Regions from separate parts of the Homo sapiens genome. Here regions 1 and 2 are each linked to region 3. The links come from fine-mapping of genetic effects on gene expression. A gene starts in region 3. Each other region holds a variant in brackets. All regions are shown on one strand. Distances are from middle to middle.

Region 1 (8,184 bases), 50 kb before region 3:
GAGGGTGTCAGTTGTTAAAAAAAAAATCACAGAAATTGTTATTTGTTCTTGTCATCCGCAATATCTTGATGCAAAACCTCCTGTTTTTACAAGAAAGGGAGGGTAGATAGGAGAGATGACAGGACATTCTTAAGAGCAAGGGTGGATGTGGGGGTGCTATCAGCTCAGATCTGTGGCTTTTATTCTTCCCTCTTGTTGCAATAAGCTGTCAACTTCAACAGAGACTAACCATGGTGCTTTTGCCTTGACGATGTGCTCCTGGTTTCATTTTGTAGAGCCTCATCAGGTCCCATAATTCTTCCATTTGAACCTGAGCAGGGGTGACACATTTTGTCACTGCCCTCCCCAGGCTCCAGGATTCGACCTTCAGTGTCACCCTCAGGACTGGCATGGAACTGGCAAGCAATAGGTGATGCATTTCCCCACTGCTGGTCAGGAATGACTTAAAATCAGTGAGGGTATAGATATCCTCACTGTATAGAATCAGGTTAATAATATTAATAATTATGCAATGGTAAGAGCTAATCATAATTACTGTTTACTAAATATTCTTACATTAATTTAAGAACTTTAACAGAGGAGGCCAAGAGAGCCAAAGAGACCCTCTGGAGATCACTCCACAATAAAACAGAAGTGAAACTCGCATATTCTGACTCTGAGACCTATAACTCAGCTCTCCTTAACCTCACTTGCCTCTGTTCATCAAACAGTCAATCAGTTATTAAGTAATGTCTATGCACAAGGACTGTCCCAAGGGATGGGAGTAAATCTCATGAACAAGACGGACCCAGCCTTTGCTTTCATAGGGCAGGAACAAAACATAGGACTTAGGATCCTGTAATGAGCTTAAAAGGTACACAGACACAAAAACACACAGCACTCACACACATGTACAGCTTTAGTGACATTAGACCTAGTAGGATCCCTCCTCTGAGGCCCCAAATTTATAGGTCTCTCTGTGTGATAACCAGCCCTTCACTTAACAAGGGCAGATTCATCTGTCAGTTGCTGAGGCTTCATACTTGCCTGCCGGGTGTCCTTGGTGCTTTCCTTGGTGAGACAAACTAACTGACAGGCTTGCCCAGAGCCCTGAGCGATAAAGCCAGGGGCCGAATGTGCAGACCAGGGAGACCCTTCTACTCCGGAGCCTCCCTTCCAGTCAGGGGGATCACTAGCAAATAGAAAGATGGCACTGCTGATCAAATAGTACTTCTAAATAAAAAGTCGCTCATCCCAAAGCCTTTACAACTTCATCTCCTTGCAGATCAACCTTCCTCAAAACCATTTCCATCCTCCTCCATCATTAAGAAACCCCAGCCACTCCTTGCGGCCCTGAGAACCAATCTGCCTTCCACTTCCAGTCACTGAGCTCCCCTGATCGGCTGTTCCAAAGTGGAGTGGTTTTGAGAACAGACTGCAGAACCTGGCTGCCTGCCTTCCTTGGTTGGTTCCAACACTTTTGCCTCAGGTTCCTCATCTGTTTTTTTGTTTGTTTTTTTCTTTTTCTTTTTTTTTTTTTAAGATAACAATAATAGTGCTACTCCATAGGATTGTGAGGATTAAAAGAGTTAATATTTGTAAAGCCTTTAAAAGGTGTCTGGCCTGACCGGCCACAGTGGCTCACGCCTGTAATCCCAGCACCTTGGGAGGTTGAGGTGGGTGGATCACCTGAGGCCAGGAGTTTGAGACCAGCCTGGCCAACCTGGTGAAACCCTGTCTCTTCTAAAAATATAAAAATTAGCTGGGCATGATGGCAGGTGCCTGTAATCCTAGCCACTCGGGAGGCTGAGGCAGGAGGATCACTTGAACCTGAGAGGTGGAGGTTGCAGTGAGCCCAGATCGTGCCATTGCACTCCAGCCTGGGCAATAGAGTGAGACGCCATCTCGAAAAGAAAAGAAAAAGAAAAAAAGGTGTCTGGCCCATGGTGAGTGCTGTGTGTTCACCATTATTTTTTCCATTGCTCCAACAGGGGTTATTAGCACTAAAAAGAGTCCAAAAACAGTTCATAGACTCATCCAATCTTAGTTTTTGTTTGTTTGTTTTGTTGTTGTTTACAGGTGAGAAAACTGAAGCTTAAAAAGGTAAGATTTCTGTTAAAAGGCGTTTCCTCATTTTAGCCTTTTAGAGGTTTCTCCAGGTCACTCTGAATAACCTCACCAGTCCCCCATCCCTAGTCCTCTGCAGCTGATGACTGTAGTGATGGGTTCAACCCAGGGCCCTTTCACCTTCATCCTGTGGTCACTTGATTCCCCAGTTGTCTGGCTATGAGCCCTGCCATTGTACTCACTCCTGCCTTTCCTCTCTGTGAGTCTACTGTGGTCTCTCACATCTTTTAGCCTCATTTTCTCCAAGAAGCCTTTCAAAGCTCTGTGCATTGATTATGCGGTTGCTTTGGCTTCCTACAGCCTCTGTTCCCTGGTTAATTTCCACCTGATCGTGTCCTGGAACTGGGGAGAAGGGATGGGATCCTGGAGATTACCTGACCCAGTGGTTCTCAGCAGCCTGGAGCACATGTGGTAGTGTGTGTATGTGGGGAAGGTAGGGAGTGGAATGGAAATAGGGAAGGGAGGAAAGAGGGAAATAACTGAGATATGGGGCTGGGGTATATTTTTATAATTTTGAATATTTTTTAAAAACCTCCCAGGAGATTTTGATGCAACATTCTGATGGGATCCAGTGATAAAATTCATGTCACATTGTATCATAAGTGAGAAAACTTTCAGTCACAGAAGTGCAATACGTTATTTAAAGACCCACCACTGGTTTGGGGAAAAGTGAGGACTTGAACTTGGGTCTCTTAACACTAAGCCTAGAGCTTGTCTGTCTCCGTTTTATGTGTGTCAATGGTAAAATTTTCAAAATTCAAAACCCATGAGTCCCAGAGTTGCCATTATAATCACCTCTAATTATGTTTACATATTAGTTACTGTGTACCAAACATCAATCTAAACACTTTCCATGCGTTATTTACTATGCACAAACCCCTGTAAGGTTGATGCTGTTATTATGCCCATTGTACAGAGAAGAAAACTCAGGAACAGAGAAGCCAATAATGTTCTCCCAAGGGGAGTCCTTAATACTATTTACATGACCTATAAATCTAACAGCTACAGACTTGAATAAGATAGCTGTATTCACATGAGGTTATCCTAGATTCCTCTGGGTCATTTTCATTTTAAAAATTGCAAGATTGAAGAAAAGTCTAAAATCTTAAAGTACACAAGCAGGATTCACCTACAATCACTTTTCCAGCTTAGATAAGCATGCTGCTTTTTTGGAAGCTGTGTGGCTCCTGTTTAGATGGCCTGTCAGCATGGCCTCATAAGAACCCAGTGGTATTTCACCTGTGCTGTCTCAAAAACCACAGGTTAGGCGTACTCCTCCACCATGGGCCAATCCACAACTCCTGGTTTCTTGCATGCCCTTGAGTTACAGTGCTCTTCCCTCATATC[C/A]CCAAACCCAACTGAGCCTGTGCCCAGATTCCTCATCCCCTTCCTTTCTGCCCAGTCTCCGCATGTCCATCTAAGGTGTAAGAGGCTTGTACCCTGCATTAGGCCGTTATTGCATTGCTACAAAGAAACACCCAAGACTGGGTAATTGATTAAAGAAAAGGGTTTGATTGGCTCATGGTTCCAGAGGCTTTAGAGGAAGTGTGGTGCTCCCATCTGCTCTACTTCTAGAGAGGCCTCAGAAAACTTATAATCATGGCAGAAGGTGAAGGGGGTACAGGCACATCACATGGCAAAAGCAGGAGCAAGAGAGAGAGAGAGAGGTGGGGGAGGTACTGCACACTTTGAAACCACAGATAGGCGTGAACTCAGAGTGAGAGCTCACTTATCACCAAAGGAATGACCCAAGCCATTCATGAGGGATCTGCCCCTATGATCCAAATACCTCCCACCACACCCTACCTACAATGGGGATTTCAACATGAGATTTGGGTGGGAACAAATATCCAAATTACACCACACCCTTTTTGGCTTCTGTGCCTCCTGCTCTCCACTCCCCCATTTCCTGCTGTAGATAGATAGGCCCCCAGGAATTTCCTGCCCTTTTACCTGCTTCTGGACTGCACCCTCTCTTAGAGTTCCTCTTTATATATTCTAGCCATTGGACCTCCTGTTACCAAGATTGCCTGAATCAAACCATTTGGCCCTGCCCCTGGGCATGGCCTGCCCATCTCCCTGGATCTAGCTACTGAAGCTGGCTTAGTCATCTACTTCAATCCCTTGTTGACAGCTGCTTTCGTACTCCAGAGAGAGACCCTTCTCTGTCCCTGCCTCCTCCCAGCAGACTGGCTTCTGTTGCTTAAGCCCCAGCTCACTTCCCAGCTGAGTCTCTGTATATACATAGGGTGGTTTAAGGCCCGGGAAGCCAAAATAAACCCAAGCCAATCACAGAGAAATTGCTCATAACTATGTAGGCTGAAAAATTGAGGTGGGGCTGATAAGCAACTCTCCATTATGACCTGCAGCCCTCAATGTTACTCTTGCTCTTGGCTTTCTGCCAGGCCTGTCATTGAATCTGAACTTTTAGCCCAAGCTCTGCCCTATTTGGACCTTGGCACAAACCAGAATGTAAAATGATAATGCCCTGAGCTGTGCTAAACAGCACAGAGCTCCTGAGATGTTACAGATGCAGCTGTGACCAGCAATCACATTGTTTCCAGGATTGTGTTTGTAAATATATGAGTTGCCTGACAGCTTGTGGAATTAAATATAGATGCTACATCACAAACTCTAGCTAAAATAAACTATATGCCGCTCAATGAATGTCAATAAGTACACAGAGAAAGAATCATTGTACCTTTTTGTAGCATAGTCCAAGACACCCACCACTAAGTGCTTTGTTTGTTTGATAAAGGGCTCTCTCTTTAGGCCCCCATAGGCTTTTGACTGGTATTAGTGGAAAGCTAGGGGGATAGCAGAAGTAAGGAGACAACGGGGTGCAATCAATAAAGCTGCTGCATTGAGGAAATGATGTGTGGTGGCAGGAGCTAGCTTGGAAGTTCCACAAGTAGACTGGAATATCATAATTAACCTTTTGGAATTGCTGACCACAAAGCATCATTTCTAAAAGTATGGTCCAAGGCTCACTGGCAGTTTGCAAGGGACTACTGATGGGGAGCAAGCTGTTCTATCACTGCAAGCTCTCTCTTCAGTTATTAAGCCAAATAACTCTCCTTCCTTTAGATTGATTTTTACAGACAACCAAAGCTTATATATTAGCAATCTATTTAATAATAGATTAGATAGTGGCAAGAATAGAATAGATAATGGCAAGTTGAAGTGACATCAGCAAGATGGTGGAAGAAGGGGTCCCAGGCTTCACTCCTCCCAGAGAAACATCAACTATCCAGTCAAAAACACCTTGGTGAAAATGTGGGAATAAGCCTGAGTCACCTGTGTATTCCATGGAACTGAATCAAACTCCACATGGAAGGGGTAAGAGAAATGGTTTTGCTTTGACCACGTTGCCCTTCCTCTCTCCCCTAAGTCAGCACAGTGCCACACAGAGGAAATTCCCTAGGGCCCATGGTTTCTACAGCGGGAAAGCAAATATCCAACTTTCCCAGCATTTTGAGGTGCTTCCCAGGCAACTCACCCCATTCTCACCTCATTGGAAATGGGGAATGGAGGAGAAAACCACATGACTAGACTATCTGGGGTCAGGTAAAAACAAAGTCAGGAGGTGGAGCCCACAGAGAACAGTAAAATAAATTGTCAAGTGAAACATATTAAAAAATTATGCAAATTTAGACATCACAGATTTTGGTAAAAGCTCAGTGCACCTGCCACTAGTCGTGCTCAATCAGAGGTATCTGTGGGTGTGTAGCTCACCCACAGAGCTGAGCTGGTCACTCCCAGAAGAGGTGGGAAGGGTTACATGGCTTGAGTCTCTAGATGGCCAGCCTCAGACCCTACCCTAGGGTCCTGCCTAGGTAAGAGAAGACCCCCTGCAGCAAATTTCCACAACAAGCAGGCACTAGATCTGCTACAGTCAGGAGCTTAATCTACACTCCCTGTAGCCTTAAAGCTTACCCCTAGACTCTGCCCAAGGAGACTGCTGATCACTGTAGCAAATACTGACAAAAAGCAGGCACTAGTTCTGCCACACCTGGGAGTTTAATCAGTTCTTCTCTTGGCCTCAAAGCCCATCCCCACACCTCACCCATGGAGGAAGGCAAATCTCAGTCATGCATTTCTACTGACCATAGCAGTTAGTCCATTCATCCCAACCTACTTAACTTTGGGGCCTCTTCTGCAACCTTGGTCAACTCCTGAACTCAAATAGCAGTACCTGGCCAGGGAATTACACCCTGTGGCCCTGCCAGACAAGATGTGATTGCAGCATCCATATGGCAGCTCAGCCTAGTAGTAGAGCTCAGCCAGTGATCTTGCCAAACAGCAAAGCCTAGTCAGCTGCCCCACACAAATTCCAGGTAAAAGCAGTAGCCCAGCCATCTAGAGAACTTAAAAGCAAGCCTGCCTTTCCAGGATCATTACTCATCCAGAATGACCCATCCAGAATCATAGGGGTAGATTAACTAGTGAATTTCTATCCCTGCCAAAAAAACAAACTTGTAAAAGCCAGAAAAGTTGTCTGTCTCCACAAATGCATAAACACCGATACAAGGATACAAGGATTATAAAGACTCATAACACCTCCAAAAGAAAGTGACAAAGCTCTAACAATAGACTCTTAGGACAAAGATATCGATAAAAGGACAGAAAAAAAAATTCAGAATAATCCTCTTAAAAATGTTTAGTAAACTTCAAGAAGATACAGATTAAACATTAAATAAAATCTCGAAGATAATACACAAACAGGAGAAGTTTGACAAAGAAATAGAAACTTTTTTTTTAAATGGAGATTTTTAAAATGAAGATTACAGTGACTGAACTGAAAAATGCAATAGAAAGCTTCAACAGCTGACTTTATCAAGCTGAGAAATCAGTAAACATGAAGACAGAAAATTTGAAATTACCCAATCAGAGGAGTAAATAATAATAATAAAGAATGAAGAACATCTATGGGAATAATGGGACATCATCAAACAAGAAACCTAACCTATGCATCATAGGCATTCCAGGAGGAAAGAAAGAAAGAAAGAAAAAGGCCATAAAACATATTTAAAGAAATAATGGATGAAAACGTCTCTAATCAAGAAAAGAAGCCAACACCTAGGTATACAAAATGTGGAGGTCAGCAATAAAACTCTAACCAAAAAAGAATTCACCAAGACATTTAATAATCAAATTATCAAAAATTAAATACAAAGAACAAATTCTGAGAGCAGCAAGAGATAAGAAATACATCACATACAAAGGAGTCCCAATAAAACTATCAGCAAACTTCTCAGCAGAAACACCGCGGGCCAGGAGAGAATTGGATGATATATTCAAAGTGGTGAAGTGAAAAAAAAAAAAAAAAACTACCAACCAAGAATACTTCACTCAGAAAATCTGTCTTTCAGAAATGAGGGAGAAATAAAAACTTTCCCAGACAAACAAAAGTTAAATAAGTTTATCATCACTAGGCCTGCTTGCAGGAATTGCAAAAGAGAGTTCTTTTAACTGAAACTAAAAGATGCTAATTATTAACATAAAATTTATGAAAGTACAAAACCTAATAGTATAAGTTTTATGTAGCAAAATGTGGAATAGCCTAGGACTGTGATAGTAGTATGCAAAGTAATTTTATCCCTAGTACAAGCATTAAAGGATGAAATTGTTAATAACAACAGTTACTGAAATAAATTGTCAAGTAAAACATATTTAAAAAAGATACAATTCAGACATCAAAAACATAAAATACTGGAATGGGGGAGAACTGGAGAGTTATTGTATGCAATCAAAGCTAAACTGTTAGCCTCAAATAAACTATTATAAGTGTAACATGTTCTATGTAAGCCTCATGGCAACCAAAAATCAAAAATCTATAGGAGATGCACAAAACAAAAGAAAACAAAATACATACCCTACGGAAAACCATCAAACTACAAAGACAGAAATGGAGGAAGAAAGAAAATATCCACAAAACAACCAGAAAACAATTAACAAAATGGCAATAGTAAGTTTTTACCTATTAATAATTACCTTGAAAATAAATGAATTAAATTCTCCAATCAAAAGACATAGAGTGAATTTATAGATAAAAATCCAAGGTCCAAGTATATGCTG
Region 2 (8,184 bases), 780 kb after region 3:
AAATGGATTTTAAAAACATAACCCAAATATTTGCTACCTATGAGAAATTCATTTCACATATAAAGACACCAATAGGTTAAAAGTTAAAGGCTGAGAGAAAAAAAGAACATAATGTGCTAATATTAATCAAAAGTAAGCTGGGATAATTACATCAATATCAGACAAAGTTGATTTCAGAGCAAAGAATATTACCAGGGATGAAGTATTTCATTTCATAATGATAAAGAGATCAATTCATCAGGGGAGAAAACAATACTAAAAGATTATATGCCTAATAACAGCACTTCAAAATTAATGTAGTGAAACCAATAGAACTGCAAGAAAAAAAGAGTCAAATCCGTAATTACAGCTGAAGATTTCAACACCACCTCCTAATAGTTGATATCACAGGAAAACAATAAAGTATATAGGACACTTAAATTGCATTTAAACCAAGATGACCTAATTGACATTTAGAATGTCTAGTCAACAATAAGATATACATTCTGTTGTTTACATGAACATGTATTTATAGAAATCATATTATGAGCTATTAGAGTAGGCTCAATAAATTTTAAAGGATTTAAATCATACAAAGCATGTTCTCAAGCCACAATGGAACCAAATTAAAAATAAAACACATAAACTATGTAAGAAAACCTCTCTAAAGCAGGAGTTCCCAACCTGGTACCACGGCCTGTTAGGAACCAGGACACACAGCAAGAGTTGAACAGCAGGTAAGCAAGAAAAGCTTCATCTGTATTTACAGCAGCTCCCCATTGCTAGCATTACCACCTGAGTTCTACCTCCTGTCAGATCTGTGGTGGCATTAGATTATCATAAGAGCACGAACCCTATTGTGAACTGTGCAATATGAAGGATCTTAGTTGCACACACCTTACAAGAATCTAATTCCTAACGATCTATTGCTGTCTCTCATTACCCCCAGATGGGATTGTCTAGTTGCAGGAAAACAAGGTCAGGGCTCCCACTGATTCTACATTATGGTGAGTTACATAATTATTTCATTACATATTACAATGTAATAATAATATAAATAAAGTGCACAGTAAATGTGCTTGAATCATCCTAAAACTTACCATTCCCCAGTTCATGAAAAATTGTCTTCCATGAAACCAGTCCTTGGTATCAAAAAGGTTGGGGATTTCTGCTCTAAAGAAACTGTGCCAAAGAAGAAATCAAAAGGGAAGCTAGAGAAAGTATTTTAAACTACATGACAATAAAAAAAAAAAATCTCAAAATTTGTGAGATGCAGCTAAGTGGAGGTTAGAGGAAAATATGTAATAATAAATGATCTTGTTAGAAAATAAACATTTCAAATAAATGACCTCAGTTTCCACCTTAATTTGTCAAACTGAAAGAAGGAGAGCAAACTAAAGACATCATATGCAAAAGAAAATGAATAATAAAGATTAGAATGAAAACCAATGACATATATAGGAGAAAGGCAATGGAGAAAATAAATTAAATGGAAAGTAGTTTCTTAGGGGCCTGTTGTGGGGTGGGGGGAGGGGGGAGGGATAGCAATAGGAGATATACCTAATGTAAATGACAAGTTAATGGGTGTAGCACACCAACATGGCACATGTATACATATGTAACAAACCTGCACGTTGTGCACATGTACCCTAGAACTTAAAGTATAATAAAATATATATATATATATATAAAAGACAGAAAAAAAAATAAAATTGGTAACTCCTAGCCAGACTCACAAGAAAAAAAAGGAAGGAAAAATTGTTAATATCAGAGATATGAGAGGTGATATCACTACAGAATCTATAGAAATTAAAAAGATAAAAATTATGAGCAACTATACACCAATAAATTTGAAATATTAAATGAAATTAACTTCTTGAAAGACACAAATTCAAACTCACTCAAGAAAAAATACATTATTATAAAGACACACAACTTTTTTTTAATTGAATCCATACTTTAAAACCTTTAAGGTAATAAGGGGGGTGGGGCCAAGATGGCCTACCAGAAGTAGCAGTGATCAGAGGCTCCTATTGAAAAGAATCATAATTAGCGAGTGAATTCTGCACTGGCAACCAAGCTATCCAGGTTCTCTCATCAGAATTGACTAGGTGGCTGGCATGATCCACAGAGAGGAAGGAAGGGCAGTGTGGTATGGAAGATCCCACTTGTGAACCCACACCACCAGGGCCTAAGGTCCGAACCCCAGAGCCTCAAACATTCTCAACAGCCTCTCAACTAGAATCTGCTTTAGACTGCCAAGTTCCCAAGGGGAGGGGTGACCAGCACCACAGCTGTGGCTGCCTGCTGTCTAAGCCATTTGAACTCCTTGGAAAAGGGGCTGCATCCAGCACTGGGACTCATAACTGCCTAACATGATAAGTTCTGTGAGTGGGGGAAAGGTGGCAGCTATCTCTGTAGCTCCAAGCTGTGCTTTTCCCCTGCTGGAGCCAGGGAGGCTGTATGGCTTAGTCCAAAGAGGTGTTCCCCACAGCCCAACATACCAGCTGTGGCAGACTGTGGCCAGAGCACCTTTTCAGGCCTGACCCTGACCCATCCTTCCTCACTGGGTGGGGCCTCCCTGCGGGAACTGCAAAAACTCCAGCCAGAGGCTCAAGGACAAAACCCTGACCTCCCTGGGCCTGAGCCCTTAGCGGGAGGGGTGGCTGCATTCTCTTCAGACCAGCAAGCTTAGCCTTTTCCTCCTAGCAGTTCTAAGAAATCCAGGCAGCCTAGATGAGTGGGTTTCCCTCCAGTGAAGCCCACCCCCTCCACTAAGGACAGTCAAAGTGCTTTGTTAAACAGATCCTGTCCCCTATATAGGTTGTCAGACACCCTATACAGGAGCAATCCTACTGGTGTCAGGTTGGTCTCAGCAGTCCTGGTCAGAAATTACTGGTGTCAGCAACCCTACTGCCCCTCAAAGTCAGAGATCCCAGAAGAAAGAGCAGGCACCCATTTTTGCTGTTCTCCAGGCTCTTTGAGTGACATCCCCAAGTGTGGGAGTGAACCAAATGAATAGGGCCTGAAGTGAACCCCCAGCAAACTGCAGCAGCCCTACAGAAGAGGGACCTGACCATTGAAAGAAAAACAAACAAACAGAAAGCAACAACAACAACATCAACAAAAACAAAAAAGTCCCCATGAAAACCCCATCCAGGGGTCAGCAGCCTCAAAGATTGAAACTAGACAAACTCATGAATATGAGAATGAATCAAATGAAAAAATGCTGAAAACCCAAAAAGCCAGAGTGCCTCTTTTCCTCCAATGATTGCAATGCCTCTCCAGCAAGGGTGCTGATGGACGGAGGATAAGATGGAAGAACTGACAGAAGTAGGCTTCAGAAGATAGGTAATAAGAAACTCCACTGAGCTAAAGGAGCATGTTCTAATCCAATGCAAAGAAGCTAAGAACCTTTGTAAAAGGTTAGAGGAGCTGCTAACTAGAATAACCAGTGTAGAGAGAAACATAAATGACCTGATGGAGCTGAAAAACACAACACAAGAACTTTGTGAGGCATACATAAATATCAAAAGCTGAATTGACCAAGTGGTAGAAAAG[A/G]TATCAGTGTTTGGGCTGGGTGCAGTGGCTCACACCTGTAATCCTAGCATTTTGGGAGGTTGAGGCAGGTGGATTGCCTGAGCTCAGGAGTTTGAGACCAACCTGGGCAACATGGCAAAACCCTGTCTCTACTACAAATACAAAAATTAGCTGGGCATGGTGGCACATGCCTGTACTGCCAGGTACTTGGGAGGCTGAGGCAGTAGAGTCACTTGCACCCAAGAGGCAAAGGTTGCAGTGAGTCAAGATCATGCCACTGTGCTCCAGCCTAGCCAACAGAGCGAGACTCCGTCTCAAAAAAAAAAAAAAAAAAAAAAAAAAAAAAAAAAAAAAAAAAATCAGAGCTTGAAGACCACCTTGCTGAAATAAGGCATGCAGACAAGATTAGAGAAAAAAGAATGAAAAGGAATGAATAAATGAACTAAGGCTCCATATGGGACTATGTAAAAGTAGCAAACCTACGATTGACTGGAGTACCTGAAGGAGAAGGGGAGAATGGAAACAAGCTGGAAAACACACTTCAGGATATTATCCAGGTGCACTTCCCCAACCTAGCAAGACAGGCCAACATGTAAATTTGGTAAATACAGAGAACATCATTAAGATACTACATGAGAAAGACCAACCCCAAGACACGTAATTATCAGATCCTCCAAAGTCTAAATAAAGGAAAAATGTTAAGGGCAGCCAGAGAGAAAGGCCAGGTCACCTACAAAGGGAAGCCCATAAGACTAAAAGTGGACCTCTCAACAGAAACCCTACAAGCCAGATGAGATTGGGGGCCAATATTCAACATTCTTAAAGAAAAGAATGTTAAACCCAGAATTTCAAATCCAGCCAAACTCAGCCTCATAAGCAAAGGAGAAATAAAATCCTTTACAGACAAGCAGATGATTTCATCACCACCAGCCCTGCCTTGCAAGAGCTCTTGATGGAAGCACTAAATATGGAAAGGAAAAGTTGGTACCAGCCACTGCAAAAACACATCAAAATGCAAAGACCAATGACACTATGAAGAAACTGCACCAACTAGTGTGCAAAATAACCAGATATCATCATGAGGACAGGATCAAATTCGCACATAATAATATTAACCTTAAATGTAAATGGGCTAAGTGCCCCAATTAAAAGACACAGACTGGCAAACTGGATAAAGAGTCAAGACCCATTGGTGTGCTGTATTCAGGAGACCCATCTCATGTGCAAAGACACACATAGGCTCAAAATAAAGGGATGGAGGAAAATTTACCAAGCAATGGAAAGCAAAAAGAAGCAGGGGTTTCAATCCTAGTCTGTGATAAAACAGACTTTAAACCAACAAAGATCAAAAAAGACAAACAAGGTTGTTATATAATGGTAAAGGGAACAATTCAACAAGAAGAGCTATCATAAATATATATGCACCCAATACAGGAGCACTCAAATTCATAAAACAAGCTATTAGATACCTACAAAGAGACTTAGACTCCCAGACAATAATAGTTGGAGACTTTAACACCCTGATGTCAATATTAGACAGATCAATGAGACAGACAATTAATGAGGATATTTAGGACTTGAACTCTGCTCTGCACCAAGCAGACCTAATAGACATCTACAGAACTCTCCACCCCAAATCAACAGAATATACACTCTTCTCTGTGCCACATGGCACTTATTCTAAAATCAACCACATAAATGGAACTAAAACACTTCTCAGAAAATGCAAAAGAAATGAAATCACAACAAACAGTTTCTCAGATCATGGTGCAATCAAATTAGAACTCAGGATTAAGAAACTCACTCAAGACCACACAATTCCATGGAAATTGAACAACCTACTCCTGAATGACCCCTGGGTAAACAATGAAATTAGAGCAGAAATCAAGACGTTCTTTGAAACCAATGAGAACAAAGAGACAACGTACCAGAAGCTCTGGGACACAGCTAAAGCGGTGTTAAGAAGGAAATTTATAGCACTAAATGTCCACATCAGAAAGCTAGAAAGATCTCAAATCAAGACGCCAACATCACAATTAAATGACCTAAAGAGGCAAGAGCAAACTAGCACAAAAGCTAGCAGAAGACAAGAAATAACTAAGATCAGAGCAGAATTGAAGGAGATGGGAACACACATACAAAAAAAGCCCTCCAAAAAAAAAAATCAATGAATCCAGGAGCTGGTGTTTTGAAAAAATTAACAAAATAGATATACTGCTAGTTAGACTAATAAGGAAGAAAAGAAAGAAGAATCAAATACACACCAGTTAGAATGGCGATCATTAAAAAGTCAGGAAACAACAGGTGCTGGAGAGGATGTGGAGAAATTGGAACACTTTTACACTGTTGTTGGGACTGTAAACTAGTTCAACCATTGTGGAAGTCAGTGTGGTGATTCCTCAGGGATCTAGAACTAGAAATACCATTTGACCCAGCCATCCCATTACTGGGTATATACCCAAAGGATTATAAATCATGCTGCTATAAAGACACATGCACACGTATGTTTATAGTGGCACTATTCAAGTAGCAAAGACTTGGAACCAACCTAAATGTCCAACAACGATAGACTGGATTAAGAAAATGTGGCACATATACACCATGGAATACTATGCAGCCATAAAAAATGATGAGTTCATGTCCTTTGTAGGGACATGGATGAAACTGGAAACCATCATTCTCAGCAAACTAACGCAAGGACAAAAAACCAAACACCGCATGTTCTCACTCATAGGTGGGAATTGAACAATGAGAACACATGGACACAGGAAGGGGAACATCACACACTGGGGACTGTTGTGGGGTAGGGGAGGGGGAAGGGGTAGCATTAGGAGATATACCTAATGCTAAATGACGAGTTAATGGGTGCAGCACACCAACATGGCACATGTATACATATGTAACAAACCCGCACGTTGTGCACATGTACCCTAAAACTTAAAGTATAATAATAATAAAATTTAAAAAAAAAATTTTAAATGATGAACTCAAAAAAAAGAAGATATTGTTTACAATGTAGTATTTATTCAGAAGAGTCTGCAATACCTAAATGGATAGCATCTACTAATTTTCAAACCTGTGTATTCAGTACCCAGATTAAGAAATATAACAACCCCCATGACACAAGTTTACCTATGGAACAAACCTGCACTTGTACCCCTGAACTTAAAATACAAGTTAAAAAAAAGAAATTAAAAAAAAGAATCAAATAGACACAATAAAAAATGATAAAGGAGATCTCACCACTGACACTGCAGAAATACAAACTACATCACAGAATACTATAAACACCCCTACACAAATAAACTAGAAAATCTAGAAGAAATGGATAAATTCCAGGACGCATACACTCTCCCAAGACTAAACCAGGAAGTTGAGTCCCTGAATAGACCAATAACGAATTCTGAAATTGAGGCAGTAATTAATAGCCTACCAACCAAGAAAAGGCGAGGACCAGACGGATTCACAGCCAGAGGTACAAAGAGGAGCTGGTACCATTCCTTCTGAATCTATTCTAAACAATTGAAAAGGAGGGGCTCCTCCCTAACTCATTTTATGAAGCCAGCATCATCTTGATACCAAAAGCTGGCAGAGGCACAACAACAAAAAAGAAACTTTCAGGCCAATATCCCTGAAGAACATTGATGTGAACATCCTCAATAAAATATTGGCAAACCGAATCCAGCAGCACATCAAAAAGCTTATCCACCATGATCAAGTTGGCATCATCCCTGAGATGCAAGGCTGGTTCAACATATGCAAATCAATAAATGTAATCCATCACATAAACAGAACCAAAGACAAAAGTCACATGATTATCTCAATAGATGTAGAAAAGGCCTTTGATAAAATTCAACATCCCTTCGTGTTAAAAACTCTCAATAAACTAGGTATTGATGGAACATATCTCAAAATAATAAGAGCTATTTATGACAAACCCACAGCCAATATTATATTGAATGGGCAAAGCTGGAAGCATTCCCTTTGAAAACCTGCACAAGACAAGGATGGCCTCTCTCACCACTCCTATTCAACATAGTATTGGAAGTTCTGGCAAGGTCTGCACCCTCAGCCTCCTGGGCTCAAGTGATTTTCCTGCCTTCTCAGCACCCCCTACCCCCACCTCAACCCCAGCCTCCAGTAGCTGAGACTACAGGCATGCACCACCATGCCTCACTAATTTTTATTTTTTTAATAGAGATATTGATTTTTGCAGTGTTGCCCAGGCTGGTCTCAAACTCTTGAGCTCAAGCAATCCACCCACCTGCTTCACTCTCCTAAAGTGCTAGGGTTACCATTGTGAGCCACTGCGCTCCCGCCTCCATTCTCGCCACTTCTATTTAACACTGTACTGGAAGTGCTGGCCACTACAATTAGACAAGATAAAGAAATAAAACATATTCAAATTTAAGAGGAAAAATTAAAATGCATGTATTCACAGACAATTATAATGAAATGTGAATTTTTCTAAATACCAAGTTTATATACACTATAAAAAGAGATTTGTTTAAATACTACATGGTAAAAGACTATTTATGTAACAAACAGAAAATGGAAGAATAAATCATAATATTAAAAATTAATTACCTGTAGGTAAAGAATATTGTGGAGGAGACTAGGATATTCAGTATTTCTCTGAACAGGTCTTTATATAGATTTAACTTT
Region 3 (8,184 bases):
AAATGAGACAATAAGCCGTGTGAGGATTAATTAGATGAGCTCTGGAAAGTGCTGTCAGCCCTTTGGAAGAGGATGCCATTATAAAATGTATACAAGGTCTTATTATTTAAGAGAAAGAGTTGAATCACCAAAAATACACTGCGCAGTGGGGAAAACAAAACACTAACCAGGAAACCTCAACTAAGCATCCCAGTCAGCAGAAAGTGCCCACGCAGATGTCTCAAGTCCCTCCAGATTACCTCTTGTTTGTGAGTTGGGGAGGGATTTCAGAGCAGTGCCTCAAGGGAGTGTATCATTTTTCTGTGATGCTCTCCAGTGGCCAGCCTGTGTCTTGGGAAAGGGGATCAGGAGAAGGTGATGACACAGGGTTGTTCTTTGCCCTTTGGCCTTGTTCAGTAAACAACCTGTCAGGAGGCCAGAAAGGAGCACGTAGAAGATAATTTTGAGGGCCAAAAAGGGAAGATGCTCCCCATCTTTGAGACCAGCCCCATGCTGACAGAGCAGGAACCTTCCTCCTTCCCCAGCCCTTTTCTCCTCACCTCCTTTCTTGTGCCCACACTGCAGCACACATCACTCCATTCTGGGAGACAAAGCCAGCTCCATTTTTGGTGAAGAGGGGAAGTAAGAGTCAAGAATGCTCCTGTCTTCTCCATGGCTGCAGCCCAGCTGTCAAACACTTTGGCGCCAGCTGACCTCCAGAAGGGGAGACTATGGTGTGACATTTGCTTCCTTTATCTCAAATATTTCACAATATACATGCTCTGTGCCTTTTCAAATTATATCCTCCTCAAAGAAGCAAGGCATGCATCTTTTCCTAGAGTAGGCAGCAGCTCTGATATTGATAAGACAGGATCATTGTGGCAGCATGTCTCGGTCATGCCCTCAGTGCTGCAAAGCAACTTATTCTGGGTGAAGGGGGACTCCAGAGGGTCATGCCTTAAACAAATAACATACACACAACTGTGTGAGTCAGGAGGGAAAGCACACAAACTCCAGCATCACTTTGCTGTTGCCTGATGTCATCAGACTGCCCCCCGGGGGATTTGGTATACTTTAGTTGCTTGGTTAATACTGGCATTGCATGTATTTTAGCGAGCATGGTCAGAGAGAGTCACTTCAACATGCACATGTCTGGAGAAGGACAGAAGCAGAAATACTTGACTTATAATATACCTTTTATCCCTCTGATTGGTCTATGCTGACATAACAATGTCCCTGCTGAATAAGGCCTAGATTACCCAACTATAAGCTTGACCTTTTATAATTGTTATCCTTTTAACAAAACATTTGTTTCTGCTCATAGCACCCTGCTCCTAGGGCTGCAAAGAGCACACACACAATTCTTTACAGAGGGGTCTGTTCAATCACATTACAGTGCATTAGCTTGAACATTGGTTAACATTTGGCTTAGGTCTATATACCCTGGATAAATATGTACCATGCAGAGGGACTGCTTGGTGAGGAGAAGAGTCCTCTGGGCTGGAACAACAGCTCACAAGTTCGTGTTCCTACTAGGCAGGAACACTCCAGGCATCCGTGATTTGGACAGGGTGCTGGACATGCTTGGTTCTTCTGTGGGCAGCCTGTTTCCTGCATACAGCTGTGAGCACAAGCACACATACATACACACACCACAGGCAGCATTCGACAGTGTACCCAGATGATCACAAAAACAGAGACAGAGATCTGCTAGATGATACCAGCACATCCCACCTTTCAGCACAGCAATGTTCTTCCCTAGTGTCTCCAGTGCTCTGCCAGGCTCAAGTCAATCAATGGGGCTTCTGCCACCACCCTGGGGAGACTATTTGCAACCTACAGGGTTCACTGTTTGGAATTTTATTTTCCTGACTGCATGTGCATGGGAAACATGCCATAGGGCTCTATGAGCACGATAATATAGATATCGTGCATTGTAACCTCAGCTCTTTGGGCTCCTTCCCAAACATAATGAACCTCCCAGCGTCAGCTGGGCAGGCAAAAGTCCTCGTCATCTTCTGCAATTATGCAGCCCTATTGAATTTTCTGAAGCTAATAGGAGTTGCACTAACTTTGAGGACTTAAACCAGGCAAAAGCAATATAGGTCAGGCAGGGAGCCCAAACCCTCTGACAGCCATGCAACACCAGGAGGCAATACCAGAGCAATCTCTAGCTCAACCCCAAAGTCCATTGCTCAACTCCACAAGACAGAAACTAGGAGAGGTGGCATCATTCCCTCTGCCTGCCACTGCCAGGCACCAGGGCAAGAGGGTTGTATGAGAGCAAAATGGTCCCTTTACCAACGGACACACCAAAAAGGACAATGAAAAGGGGAGAAAAATCACCGAAACCCTGCACTGTTACCTTGAATCCTTGCAAGAGCCCTCCTTGCTGTATCAGCTGCTCCCCAAACCTTCAACGACTGGGAGGAGACTCCTAAAAGATTCCAGGTTTTTGTGCAACATCTCCAGTGGCAGCTTTCCAAAGTTTTTACTTCATGATTTCTTGTGGTTCTTTCTCATTTGGGGAAACGCGAATGCCTCCCCCTCAGCGTGTGAGAGGGAGCGGATGTCTCTTTTCAAATTCTCTTGCTCCCCGCTTTACTGTCGGTGCCGCCGCCGCCGCCACCGCCACCGCCGCCAACGTTAGACCACTTGCCTGCTGCCTTCCCGCTGAGCAGCCAGGATCCCGGTCTCCCAGAGCATCTTTGAAGTGGGGCTTCGGCACTGGGCCGGGGCGCACGCGGGGTGGGAGAGGTAAGGGAAGTGCAAGACCCAACTGGGGGAGTCCCCTGTCCCTCCGCCGAGGAGAAACCCAAGATTTTGCCTTCTTTCCAACTCTAAAGAGACTCACCCACCCGCTCTCTCACCCGAAATCACTGCCTTGCACATGGGCAGAGACAGGTCTTCCGGCTTCACCGCTCCCTCGGCTGCCTGCAGACCTGCCACTGACCTCGGAGCGCACGGCAGGTGCACATCCCCGGGCAAGTCCTAATGGGATCCTCCGAGCTCAGCGTAAGCGCTGCCAGCGCAGCGGCGAGCAGCTTGCGAGGCAGGCGGATTGCATCCCAGAGCTGCAGCCCGGCGCGTCCCCGCTCCGACTCCGCGCTCCGTACCTAAGCAGTGTCACCTGCAGACTCAGACACCAGATGAGTGTCTTAAGATAACAATGCTGCCCTGCCTGCCTCTCTCTTTCTTTCTTATGCATGTAGGTTGGCAGCCAATGGGACACAGCGCCACACTCCCCACAGGTGCCCATTGGCTGGGCGGCTTGGCAGGGGGCGGGCTCTGAGCCTCACCGCTCTCTCCTTTGGTGAGCTGGCAGGCTGGGGTACCAGCTCTGTTAACCCTCCCAGCGTTGCAGTGGGGACTTTTTGGTGTGTATAAGGAAGCCTTGGGTACATTCACGGGTGGGGCGTTGGACACTCTTAAAAAGGCTGGGGAACAAGAAGTAGCTGGGGAGCTAATTACATTTTCTTCTAATCTTCCTGAGTTACAATAATCATTTATCCCAGCCCATTTTGTTTGCTTGCTTAACTAGAACTCCCAGAGATTGGGACCCATCTGAGCCATTTTCCATCTAATTTGAGGTTTCATTTGGTTGTTTTGTGCATTTTTTAGCCTCTTGGATTACTTAATTAGAAATGAGCCCCCAAGTGAGAAATAGTACACACACACACACACACACACACACACACACACACCCCAGAGACCCAAGAGGAGAGAGAGGCAAAAGAGAGCAAGAACCCAGTAAGATGGCTAGAGAGTGAAACAGATTTAGAGGCCAGGACAGCTAAATCAGGAAACATTCTGCCCCCACACCAGGACTGTAAGGACAAAGGCAAAGAGGAGAACTTCAGGTTTCTGGGGAGAGATTAAGTTTCAAAAATGTCCCTCCAAAAAAGGGAATTGTTTTGCCTGTGGTGTTTTCCCTCTGTGTGTCTCCTTTCACTTCTGTGTGTGTCAGGAAGAGGGACTGTGCATCTCCGTTTAGTTTTTAAAGGAAGACTAGAGAAATCAGAACAGGACCAGCCTTGTTTCTGTGAAGCAGGTGCTGTTGCTGGGCCTGTGAATTGAAAGAGAGGGAGGGAGGAAAAAAGGGAGGGAGGTGGAGGGAAAAGGGAGGAAAGGAGAAGGGAAGAAAATATTAACTTTACATTGAAGTGTGAAGTATATATTTTTGATATCCTAATGAGGGTACAAAACTGAAACATGTCCCGCTAACTAGCATACTAAACTAGATTTTGGCAGGAGCATAGGAAAAAGAGTAATAGTTGAAGAAAAATCCAATTCAAGGGAAGAGCTGGGGGCTGGAGCTGGGGAAGGAACTTGGGAGATCCATGCTAAGTCATGTGGTGGGGGAAGTATGAAGAAGATAAATATATAGTCAGAAAGCGAGAGGAGTCTTTCAATTTAGTTTCCTTAAATGGAGAGCAACATCGGAGATTATTTTGTAAAGAACTAGAAAAAAAAAGTATGTAGAGATTTAATGAATGTGTAAGAAGTACACATGGAGATTAGCTAAACTGCATCAAGTAGCCGTAAGTTCTGAATGAATAAAGAAAAATTAGAAATTTTCTTCATTCATCCCCTCAGACTCACACATCTATCACTTTCACCTATATTTTCTTCTCTGTATCTTATACAACGTTGAACTTCCTTCTGCATACTGCAAGTATCTGTTTGCCTAAGCTACAAAACATGTCAGAGAATGGTGGTCCCACAGGGTCCTGAGCTCTCTTTCTAGAATAAAATAACCAAGAGAACCACTGAGAGCCTAAATCTATTGCTACCCAACTGCTGAGTTATTTACTTTTGTGATTTCTAGAGGCAGAGACCCACTGAACTTGTCCCAAGTGACAACATACTGAAATGTTAAAATAGCATAAGGGAGTGGGTAAATAGAGGGAGAGGTTGAACAAAGGATTGCTAATTTCAATGGAAAGAAAGTTAAAATTTCCAAAATCTGTAAAAGAGAGAGGAAAGAGGTGATGGCAGATAAGAAGACAACTTGAAAAAGAAAACTTGCTTGTACTTTCTTCTCCTATAAAGTCTGAAGCCGTGTAAAAAATTTTAAAGAGGCAGAATATACATTAAGAATTGCCACAAGTGTATAGTTTAATTCTTGCCTATATATGCATCAATGTAACCATTACTCACTTTATTTCCAGCACTGCAGGAAGCATGTTCGTGAACGTTCTCAGTCAAAACCCTCCACTCCCCAGAGATAATTATATTCTGACTTCCATCACCAAAGATTAATGTTACTTGCTCTTGAACTTTGTAAATATAGGATCTTAGAGTATACACTCTTTTGTGTCTTGATCCTTTCACTCATCATTTTGTCTCTGAGATTTATCCATGTAGTTGTATGTTTTATTGCGGTGCACCACTCTATTACATGACTACATGGCATTTATTCATTCTGTTCTTGATAGATATTTGGGATGTTTCTGGGGTTTTTTGGCTATTATAAGTAAACTTGTTATAAATGTTTTTGTGCTTGTCTTTTGGTGGATGTATGCAATCATTTCCTCTGGGAAAACACCAAGGACTATACATTACTTAATTTGCTTTGACTACTACACTGGAGAAAATCTCATGAAGATGACTCTGAAGCCTATTATCTTGCCAAAATAATTGAATAAGGTGATAGTGGCAAAGGCTATCGCTACTGAGTGCCAACTAAATGCCTAAAATGTGTCACATTGTTTACATACATAATCTCATTTCCTCCTCACAACCACCCCCAAAACTATGTATTATTCCTGTTTTGCAAATAAGAATATTGAATTTAAGACTTTGTATTAGGAAATAGCTCTTGCTTTCCTGAGTGTATGTGTATGTATATGTGTAGATGTTGGGGGAGATGTAAATAAATGCCCAGGGAATGGAGCTAAAAGAAGGGAAGTGATGGAAGTTCTCACTGCATAGGTGCAGCTGCAGATTAGCTTGGAGAGATGGGACAATCTGAAGAATAAAGAGTGTTGCACTTCAGGTGGACAGAATGTTATGGGAGGAGTGAAAATAGGAAATAGATTTTAATTTGATTGAGAGATGTGTGTGTCTGTGTGCACATGTGTGGTGGGAGGATAGAGATATAGTGCAGTGAGCAAACTATCTAAAAAACAGTGTGAGATTAGAAGAGTTTTAAAATTTCTAAACCATGGGTTTTCAGCTTTATCATGTAGAAAAAGAAAAACTAGAATGACATAATGAAAGTTAGATTTCATGAAGATCAACCTGGTAGTTGTGTACAGAATGCGTTGCTAGGAGGAAAAGGAATCAAAATCTATTTTAATAGTCAAGGAAAGAGGCCATTGGTGCTTAAATACAGGAAGGTGTATCTCAGGAGAAAAGTGAAGATTGGAGATAACAGCGCTTGCTGTTTTACAGTGTTTTAAAGAATAGAAATTTTCTGAGAATGAATAAATGCCATGTAGTCATGTAATGGACTAGTACACAGCAATACAATATTGAACTACATGGATAAATCTCACAGACATAATGATGAGTGAAAATATTAAGACACAAAAAAGCATATACTCTAAGATTCTATATTTATAAAATTCAAGAGCAAGTAACATTACTCTTTGGTGATGAAAGTCAGAAACATTTTCTGTGACCAGCAGGGGTGAGCGGAGATGATTGGCCCCTTTTGTTGATGGGGAACTAAAGACAAGAATGGTCCAAGCTTATCTCCAAATAAGAATATTATGAAGTTAAGTCTTGAATCCAGTTCTATTATTTCACTATATCATTATGCCTCTACACAAAGGTGATGATTGAGATGCATAACATTTTCCCCCATCTCCTCTAAATGTAAAACATCATGCATTAGAGATGGCCTGGTTTCCATGTACTTCAACCTTTACCCACATCTCTAGGTATTTAATTCCCTAAGAAAGGGCCATGTGACATTATTTCCATTTTTACAGGAATCAAGTACTCTGGAATAATATATTCTCTTTTAAAAAATTCTACTGTTTCTTTTGTTTGGTTTTGTTTAGAGAGGTCTAGAAAGACTTGAGATACCAACTACCAACTATGCCCAACTCAATATACATTTTAAGAAGACTAGATATTGACTTATTGGAAAATCAACCCTAAATGGTTTACTTGGGCTTTCTAACATGACTCAAGAATCTTCAGAAAATTAGAAAGAAAGATTTCAAAGTGACAGTAGATTATATGCTACTCAAAAGCAGGAGTAGTATTTTTCTGGCTGTGCTTAGCCTAATGCTTATGATACAGTAGGTACACAAACATTTGCTGAATTAATTACTGTGGTCCATAAAGCCCAGTGATTATCCATGGGTGCACCCTAGTGTACCATAACCATATAGTGGAAAGAGCAGTGGGCAAAGAAATCTTGTTCATGGTCTTAGCTCCATAGAAGATAGATCACTCTTTAATGGGTCTCAATTTCCTTATCTGTTAAGTGAGAGATTGGATGAATACATGATCAGGTACTTACATGCCATTTCTCACATTCTAGTATCAAGGGTGTGTTCCTGACATCCACTATAATTATTCAATGGCAAATAACCTTGCATAAGTAAGTTTAATACTAGATTTTTGTTTATGCTAGGGATAACAGAATGAAAGAGATATCATGGGGTTTTTGTCTCACTCAGTATCTCTTAGGGGAGCAATGACGATCAGGATGAGTTTTCAAAAGTCGTTAGCTGGTACATCTTTTTTACAGTAGTTTACAGTAGTTTGCAATGCTGCATGGTAAGATAACTTGGGGTTAATTCCCAGATAAGTTACATATAAAAACTCAACTAATAAAGTGTCTTTGTTCTTCTTTTCTTTGCATATGTGGTAAATGATCTTTCACTACTTAAACATTACCTTAAATATGGCTTATTTTCTCTATTCAATTAGATAAACTTTGTAAAATATATGGCAAAAGCTTTTTTGTCTTTTAAAGAACATATTTTCACATATGCCAATAAACTGACACCAGGTAGAATGAAAATGTAATTGTTTCTTAAGTAGGGGTCCTCTTTTAGAACAGTAGTGCATTAAATTTCTAGAGTGAGAACTACAAATAACACAGTCTTCACAGCACCTAGTATTGAAGTTAGCATTGACCCAATAACAATGGAGGGACACACTTTTGAAATAAGTTATTGGTTATCATGTGAGAGAAAGTTCAGTTAAATGTCAGATTTCAGAATACACAATGTCACTTTTCTA

Alleles and levels. Positions count from the first base shown, and alleles are read on the strand shown. Sizes are in standard deviations (SD) of each study's normalised expression.
With allele C in place of A in region 1, the expression in esophagus muscle of the gene that starts at base 3,119 in region 3 is higher (small effect, 0.29 SD a copy in GTEx).
For the expression in gastroesophageal junction of the gene that starts at base 3,119 in region 3, allele A in region 2 goes with a lower level than allele G (large effect, 1.0 SD a copy in GTEx).

The links. PIP is the estimated chance that this variant, and not a neighbour inherited with it, causes the effect.
Region 1: its variant is fine-mapped to the expression of BRINP2 in esophagus muscle (GTEx, PIP 0.94).
Region 2: its variant is fine-mapped to the expression of BRINP2 in gastroesophageal junction (GTEx, PIP 0.96).

The regions. Positions count from the first base shown.
Region 1 is chr1:177,216,032-177,224,215 of GRCh38, reverse strand. All of the region lies in intron 1 of BRINP2 (BMP/retinoic acid inducible neural specific 2), which reads right to left. Among named protein-coding and RNA genes, the nearest start is that of BRINP2, 49 kb to the right of the region's middle. The variant C/A (reference allele first, on the strand shown) is at 3,454.
Region 2 is chr1:176,386,177-176,394,360 of GRCh38, reverse strand. No RefSeq gene overlaps it. Among named protein-coding and RNA genes, the nearest start is that of PAPPA2, 73 kb to the left of the region's middle. The variant A/G (reference allele first, on the strand shown) is at 3,541.
Region 3 is chr1:177,165,893-177,174,076 of GRCh38, reverse strand. BRINP2 (BMP/retinoic acid inducible neural specific 2) reads right to left here and starts at 3,119. Exons shown (of 8, transcript NM_021165.4): 1 at 2,345-3,119. RefSeq lists enhancers at 2,303-2,891, 2,892-3,481.